3 separate regions of the Homo sapiens genome follow, and all the other regions are linked to region 2. The links come from fine-mapping of genetic effects on gene expression. A gene starts in region 2. Each other region holds a variant in brackets. All regions are shown on one strand. Distances are between the middles of the regions.

Region 1 (2,756 bases), 41 kb after region 2:
ATGTTGTGTAGGCTGAAACCTAGGATGGGTGGACCGAGTGACACAAAAGAGCCAACCTAGCAAAGCAATTTCAAGGGCCTCTCTCTCTCCCTCACACTTCCCCACTTCTCAGCAGAGAAGATGCAATAATGGTCAAATTTGATTCAGCACTAAATTCTCTGCAAGTTTATGGTAGGTAAAATATAGGGTAACCATATACACAAAGTAGGACTGTAGAGAAAGTAAAAAGAGAGCATTAGGCCAGGCGCGGTGGCTCACACCTGTAATTCTAGCACTTTGGGCGGCCAAGGCGGGTAGATCACTTGAGGTCGGGAGTTTGAGACCAGCCTGGCCAAACCCCATCTCTATAAAAATACAAACATTAGGGCCAGGCACGGTGGCTCACGCCTGTAATCCCAGCACTTTGGGAAGCTGAGGCGGGTGGATCACGAGGTCAGGAGATGGAGACCATCCTGGCTAACATGGTGAAACCCCATCTCTACTAAAAATACAAAAAATTAGTCGGGCATGGTGGCAGGTGCCTATAGTCCCAGCTACTCAGGAGGCTGAGACAGGAGAATGGTGTGAACGCGGGAGGCGGAGCTTGCAGTGAGCCGAGATTGCGCCACTGCACTCCAGCCTGGGCGGCAGCGCAAGACTCTGTCTCAAAAAAAAAAAAAAAAAATTAGCTGGGCATGGTGGCACACGCCTATAATCCCAGCTACTCAGGAGGCTGAGGCAGGAGAATCGCTTGAACCCAGGAGGTGGAGGTTGCAGTGAGCTGAGATTGCGCCACTGGACTCCAGCCTGGGCAAAAGAGGGAGACTGTCTCAAAAAAAAAAAAAAAAAGGCCAGGCATGGTGGCTCATGCCTGTAACCCCAACACTTTGGGAGGCTGAGGTGGGCCGGATCACCTGAGGTCAGGAGTTGGAGATCCGTCTGGCCAATGAAACCCCATCTCTACTAAAAATACAAAAATTAGCCGGGTGTGGAGGCAGGCGCCTGTAGTCCCAGCTACTCAGGAGGCTGAGGCAGGTGAATCACTTGAACCCAGGAAGCAGAGGTTGCAGTGAGCCGAGATCGCGCCACTGCACTCCAGCCTGGTTGACTAGAGCTAAACTCCTTCTCAAAAAAAGAAAAAAAGCACTAAAAGTAAGTTGTTAATTGATGTACAATAGGCTTAATTAACCTGGACTGTCCCTGCAAACTGCACCTTGTGGCCACGCTGGTAAAGGCTGAGAGTTGGATATGCTCATTCATTCTCCTTGCTGGGACAGGTGTGTTGACCCAGCCAGAAGTGATTTGGTACCACCCCTCTGTCTATCTCCCACCACCTTTCTTATCCACATCTAGAGTTGAGGCTTGAGTTTAGGGAAGGGGAGGAAGCCAGGTGGGTAGTCCAAGGTTGCATATGAACTTCCTTCTTGCTCCCATTCAATGAATCAGAGGAGTCAGATTCTACTTTCACTGCCTCTCCCAGCTCACCATGGAAAAATAGTAACTGCCTGTCTTCTTCCAGCAAACTTTGAAGCATTAAAACAGGACACTTCTATAATTTTATTTGGCATTTCATGTGCCTGGTAAATATAGGCTAAACCTCCCCAGATGACCAAGCAGAGGCATTTGTAAGGGATCACACAGCAAATCACAATTCAGACTGACCCGGCATGGTCCAGGTTGAACTTGGTTG[G/T]GGGAGAAGCTATATGCTCTAGTTTGGTTACTAGATAGAAATGACAGGACAGCCTAAGACATAGAACTTGCATCTCCCGAGCTTGGAGTGAGACTAGTCTCTCAGCCGCAGATTTGGTCGGGGTGGTGACCGCGAAGATAGAAAGGAACTTCCCGAAGCAGCTTGCCTCGTGCTCTGGGATCTTCAGCCAGGGCAATGTCTCCAGCACCCTGGAGACTCAGAGGGATTCTCTACTTAATACTCTGAGCTGCAGATGAGATTTGTTCAGATTTGTCATGAAGTGTGTGGTCATCCAACCCCAAATATAACTCCCTGGCATCTTGTGGTGACTGTCATCTGGTTCATTTCATCATCTGTATTTGTGACAATCAACAAACATAGACAACCTTCCAGGATATCAGAAGGGGACCAGTGCCCTCTGTTTACCCTCCAGCTGACTGATGCATCTAATAGGGTGGAAAAATGTCAGAGAAGAGAGAGCTTCTTAATCCCTCTCAAAACAATCAGACTTGAAGATTCCAGCACCACAGAGAGCCAAGAGAGCCTCTTATTCCAGGCTCTTCTTTCCCTTGAATATAGGACAGCCAAGATTCCTGGTCTGGTACAGAACTGAGAGAGATGGGTAAAGGGGCTAAGAGGCTGCTTCTGGGTACACACACAACCCCGAGGTTCAGGCTGCCAATTTGTCAGAGAAAACGAGAAAGAGAATGCTCCTTTTGGGACCAAGAAAGAAGCAGAACAAATGCAAGAGTCCCACGAGGCAGATCCACATGTTCCTTCCCCACACCCCCGAAATCTGGCTTCTATTCCTATCCATCTGCTGAAACCATATCTTAGGTTACTAATGGTTCGTCTGTGGCCAGTTCCCTGTTCTCATGCTTCTTGATCTCACTAATGCACTTGACACACCCCTGACCCTTCCTTCTTGAAACACAAGTCAAGGTGGATGTAAAATGGGTGCAGTGATGAATCTGCGCCACTTGTCAAAATACTGAAATACTTCTATTCTGGTTGGTAAATAGGGTGTCCCACACTCCCAGGACCACTAACTCTCCCCCTGCCAAGATCTGGCCATTAAAGTGTTAAC
Region 2 (2,756 bases):
GGTCCCACCATCCAAGCAAGAGCCAGGTGGCTTCTTATCAAAGAAAAGAGGATGTGGTCCCGACACCCAAGCAGTTAGTTCACTCCAGACTCAGTTCATTTTCCTCTATCAGACTATTCACACCGCCACTTCAAGCCAATAAATGAAACAGCTTGCATGAAATAAGCACTCAGATATTGGTCAGGCAAATAGAAATAAACGTGGGGGCGATTTGCATGGCGGTTGTTTCTGATCTGGGATAGCTCAGTGGGTAGGTGAGCTGTGAGCTCTCACAACACTTACTTTCACTGCCACGGAGATGAGGTTGGTGGCCTCAGGTTGGTGGCCAGGGACCTGAGCCCGAGACACCCCTGCATTTGATCCAACCAGGTCAGCTTTAGGGAGGAGCAGCCTTTCTAGAAACGACTGGTCTGCGAGATTTTCTGGAGGTTTCCGGCCATTTCCAAGGTATCCAAAGAGCTCTCTCAGCCCACCGACTGCCCCAGTATGTGAGAAGGGCGGCAGACAGGAGGCCCTGCCAAGTCTCTGGACGCTGTCAGTCTCCAGGAAGGCAGTGTTGGCGTATGCTTTGTACACCTGGGCCACGCAGCCTGAGCCCACAGGTTCCCGGTTCTCAAAAGAGAGGATGCTCCCCCAGTCATCCCCAAAAGCCTGCCGAAGGAAGCGCTCAGTGTGAGTCCACGGGTGGGGCGTCACTCGGACATGCAGCTTGGAAAATTGGGCACAGAAAGCCTCCGAAAACAGATCGCGCCGGGTGCTGGCCCACTGGCCCAGTTTGATGTAGGTTGGGCCTGAGGTCTCGGTGGCTTTCAGAAGCAGGTGGAGCCAGAGGGTGGAGACGCTGGGAGCCAGGTAGGTGAGGGGGTAGAGGAGTAGGAGGGGGAAGAATTTCACCAACAGAGCGCCGGCGCGAAGCCAGAGGCGGAGATGCAGGAAGACGCCGCCCAGAGGTCCCGCTCGGGGGAGGCTCTCCGCGGGCCCCGCGCCAGCCGCCCCGCTGCAGCGGACCCTTCGCCGACTCAGAACGTCAGGGGCCCCCTCACCCACGTCCCCGCACAGGGAGACGACCTTGGGCAAAGTGCCCAGCAGAAGCCAGCAGAGCCTGGCATCGCGAGGGCACTCGGAGGGCCTCAGGAGGCTGAGTCCCTGTCTGAGCTCGAAGCACCTCAGGTGCGACAGGCAAACCCTGACGGAGACGCGCCAGGGCGCCACCATCCTCCCGAGGCCCGCGGCCCAGGCGGCCCGCCCTCCACTTCAGAGGCGCCCGCTCAGGCGAGGCTGCGGTGAAGCCGAAGCCCGGCCCTGACCCCGCGGACGGAGCTGCCCATCTGGGCCGGATCCGCGCCCCGCTCCCTCCAGCACCTCGCCGGGCCTCAGGCCGGAGGCCCGCGCCCCGCCCGACACCCGCCGCGCCGCGCCGCGCCGCGCGGAAGGGGCTGTCAGACGGCACCAACTGCGGAACGGGAGGAGCCAGGACCCACGCGAAGCCAGGCCCCGGGCGCCCGCGACCTGAGCGAGGGGGCCGCGCGGGCGGAGGCAGGGGCCGGGCAGCCGCAGGGTCACCGTGCGCCCAGGGGCCAGTATGAGATCGCTGGGGTGGCGGGCACCAGCCCAGGGCGCGGGCGCAGGCGGGGGCCGGGAGGGCGGGGCGGAGCGTGGAGGGCGGGCGGAGCGTCGGGGGCGGAGCGTCGGGGGCGGGCGGGAGTGCAGGTGCAGGGAACCGAGGCACCGAGGGCTGTGGTGGAGCGGAGGGGCGCGGGAGATGGATGGGACGGGTTCGGCCACTAGGTTGAAACCGCCATTGCAAAATTATAACAGATAATGAAAGAGATCTGACCTAACCAACTCCATCTTGCTTCTAACCTCCAAGCTGTCCTTGTTCATTCCTGGGCGTTGGCTGAACTAACTTTGGGAGGAACTTAGTTTATACTTTATAGTTTAAAACAAAGATGATAACAGCCCTTTCTGAAAACAAACCTCCTTCTTGCCTGGGGAATAGACTGTCTTTGTAGGACTAACAAATTAACCAAAAGATTAGAAAGTATGATTTAGGAGTCAGGCAGCAAGGCTACAGTATTCTGACCCTCCCTAAACTGCTAATAAGATCAGTGCTCAAGATATTTTGCAGACCCTGCACTTGATGGATCAACTGACACCTACCAGATCGATAAACCAGGTCATCTGATCTTAGGCCCCCACTCCGGAACTAACTCAGCACAAGAGGACAGCTTCAGTTCCCTAAGATTTCACCTCCGACCCAACCAATCAGCACTCTCGACTCACTGGCCTTCCCCCACCCACCAAGTTGTCCTTAAAAACTCTGCCCAGTGTCCCGCGCAGCCTGATCTGTGTGAATTACTCCTTCTCTATTGCAATGCCCCTGTCTTGATAAATCGGCTCTGTCTAGGCAGCAGGCAAGGTGAACCCGCTGGGCTGTTACAGGGTGGCCGGTGGGGGCAGAGGGCTGGGTGCTGGGCGGTGAGGGTCGGAGGGAGCAGAGGGTCGGTGGCAGAGGCCCGGGCAGCCAGGGTCCCTTGACCCGCCCCTTAAAGAGGACGGCGACCCCAGGCCAAGACCACCCTGCCCTTGAGTCCTGGGTCCTGGGTAGCAAAACGCAAAGGCACCCTCTATGTCCCCCTCCCCATGTCTATCTTCCCACTGACTTCTTCGTATCTTTCATTATTCCAAAGAGCATGGCTGAAAAGTATGAAGGCAGGTTCTGAACACAGGTCCGCTTTTCAGCGGGGGTTGGGTAG
Region 3 (2,756 bases), 39 kb before region 2:
TACCTGAAAGTGACAGGGAGAATGGAACCAAGTTGGAAAACACTCTGCAGGATATTATCCAGGAGAACTTCCCCAATCTAGCAAGGCAGGCCAACATTCAAATTCAGGAAATACAGAGAACACCTCAAAGATACTCCTCGAGAAGAGCAACTCCAAGACACATAATTGTCAGATTCACCAAAGTTGAAATGAAGGAAAAAATGTTAAGGGCAGCCAGAGAGAAAGGTCGGGTTACCTACAAAGGGAAGCCAATCAGACTAACAGCGGATCTCTCAGCAGAAACTCTACAAGCCAGAAGAGAGTGGGGGCCAATATTCAACATTCTTAAAGAAAACAATTTTCAACCCAGAATTTCATATCCAGCCAAACTAAGCTTCATAAGTGAAGGAGAAATAAAATACTTTACAGACAAGCAAATGCTGAGAGATTTTGTCACCACCAGGCCTGCCCTACAAGAGCTCCTGAAGGAAGCACTAAACATGGAAAGGGACAACCAGTACCAGCCACTGCAAAAACATGCCAAATTGTAAAGACCATCAAGGCTAGGAAGAAACTGCATCAGCTAATGAGTAAAATAACCAGCTAACAGCATAATGACAGGATCAAATTCACACATAACAATATTAACTTTAAATGTAAATGGGCTAAATGCTCCAATTAAAAGACACAGACTGGCAAACTGGATAAAGAGGCAAGACCCATCAGTGTGCTGTATTCAGGAAACCCATCTCACATGCAGAGACACACATAGGCTCAAAATAAAGGGATGGAGGAAGATCTACCAAGCAAATGGAAAACAAAAAAAGGCAGGGGTTGCAATCCTAGTCTCTGATAAAATGGACTTTAAACCAACAAAGATCAAAAGAGACAAAGAAGGCCATTACATAATGGTAAAGGGACCAATTCAACAAGAAGAGCTAACTATCCTAAATATATATGCACCCAATACAGGAGCACCCAGATTCATAAAGCAAGTCCTTAGTGACCTACAAAGAGACTTAGACTCCCACACAATAATAATGGGAGACTTTAACACCCCACTGTCAACATTAGACAGATCAACGAGACAGAAAGTCAACAAGGATACCCAGGAATTGAACTCAGCTCTGCACCAAGCGGACCTAATAGACATCTACAGAACTCTCCACCCCAAATCAACAGAATATACATTCTTTTCAGCACCACACCACACTTACTCCAATATTGACCACATAGTTGGAAGTAAAGCACTCTTCAGCAAATGTAAAAGAACAGAAATTATAACAAACTGTCTCTCAGACCACAGTGCAATCAAACTAGAACTCAGGATTAAGAAACTCACTCAAAACCACTCAACTACATGGCAACTGAACAACCTGCTCCTGAATGACTACTGGGTAAATAATGAAATGAAGGCAGAAATAAAGATGTTCTTTGAAACCAATGAGAACAAAGACACAACAGACCAGAATCTCTGGGACACATTCAAAGCAGTGTGTAGAGGGAAATTTATGGCACTAAATGCCCACAAGAGAAAGCAGGAAAGATCTAAAATGGGCACCCTAACATCACAATTAAAAGAACTAGAAAAGCAAGAGCAAACACATTCAAAAGCTAGCAGAAGGCAAGAAATAAC[T/G]AAGATCAGAGCAGAACTGAAGGAAATAGAGACACAAAAACCCTTCAAAAAATTAATGAATCCAGGAGCTGGTTTTTAGAAAAGATCAACAAAATTGAGACTGCTAGCAAGACTAATAAAGAAGAAAAGAGAGAAGAATCAAATAGACGCAATAAAAAATGATAAAGGGGATATCACCACCGATCCCACAGAAATACAAACTACCATCAGAGAATACCACAAACACCTCTATGCAAATAAACTAGAAAATCTAGAAGAAATGGATAAATTCCTCGACACATACATCCTCCCAAGACTAAACCAGGAAGAAGTTGAATCTCTGAATAGACCAGTAACAGGCTCTGAAATTGAGGCAATAATCAATAGCTTACCAACCAAAAAGAGTCCAGGGCCATATGGATTCACAGCCGAATTCTACCAGAGGTACAAAGAGGAACTGGTACCATTCCTTCTGAAACTATTCCAATCAATAGAAAAAGAGGGAATCCTCCCTAACTCATTTTATGAGGCCAGCATCATCCTGATACCAAAGCCTGGCAGAGACACAACCCAAAAAGAGAATTTTAGACCAATATCCTTGATGAACATCGATGCAAAAATCCTCAATAAAATACTGGCAAACCGAATCCAGTAGCACATCAAAAAGCTTATCCACCATGATCAAGTGGGCTTCATCCCTGGGATGCAAGGCTGGTTCAACATACGCAAATCAATAAATGTAATCCAGCATATAAACAGAACCAAAGACAAAAACCACATGATTATCTCAATAGATGCAGAAAAGGCCTTTGACAAAATTCAACAACCCTTCATGCTAAAAACTCTCAATAAATTAGGTATTGATGGGACGTATCTCAAAATATTAAGAGCTATCTATGACAAACCCACAGCCAATATCATACTGAATGGGCAAAAACTGGAAGCTTTCCATTTGAAAACTGGCACAAGACAGGGATGCCCTCTCTCACCACTCCTATTCAACATAGTGTTGGAAGTTCTGGCCAGGGCAATCAGGCAGGAGAAGGAAATAAAGGGTATTCAATTAGGAAAAGAGGAAGTCAAATGGTCCCTGTTTGCAGATGACATGATTGTATATCTAGAAAACCCCATCGTCTCAACCCAAAATCTCTTTAAGCTCATA

Which allele goes with the higher level. Alleles are on the strand shown, and positions count from the first base shown. SD is a standard deviation of normalised expression in the study named. Not every link is listed here.
As copies of G replace T in region 3, the expression in testis of the gene that starts at base 1,601 in region 2 goes up (small effect, 0.34 SD a copy in GTEx).

What was found. PIP is the estimated chance that this variant, and not a neighbour inherited with it, causes the effect.
Region 1: its variant is fine-mapped to the expression of ADCK2 in whole blood (TOPMed, PIP above 0.99).
Region 3: its variant is fine-mapped to the expression of ADCK2 in testis (GTEx, PIP 0.90).

The regions. Positions count from the first base shown.
Region 1 is chr7:140,630,937-140,633,692 of GRCh38, reverse strand. All of the region lies in intron 1 of DENND2A (DENN domain containing 2A), which reads left to right. Among named protein-coding and RNA genes, the nearest start is that of DENND2A, 8.5 kb to the left of the region's middle. RefSeq lists an enhancer at 12-512. The variant G/T (reference allele first, on the strand shown) is at 1,670.
Region 2 is chr7:140,671,790-140,674,545 of GRCh38, reverse strand. It overlaps ADCK2 (aarF domain containing kinase 2), which reads right to left and starts at 1,601. Exons shown (of 8, transcript NM_052853.4): 1 at 283-1,601. The coding sequence starts at 1,215. RefSeq lists a silencer at 1,207-1,666.
Region 3 is chr7:140,710,489-140,713,244 of GRCh38, reverse strand. No RefSeq gene overlaps it. Among named protein-coding and RNA genes, the nearest start is that of NDUFB2-AS1, 15 kb to the right of the region's middle. The variant T/G (reference allele first, on the strand shown) is at 1,616.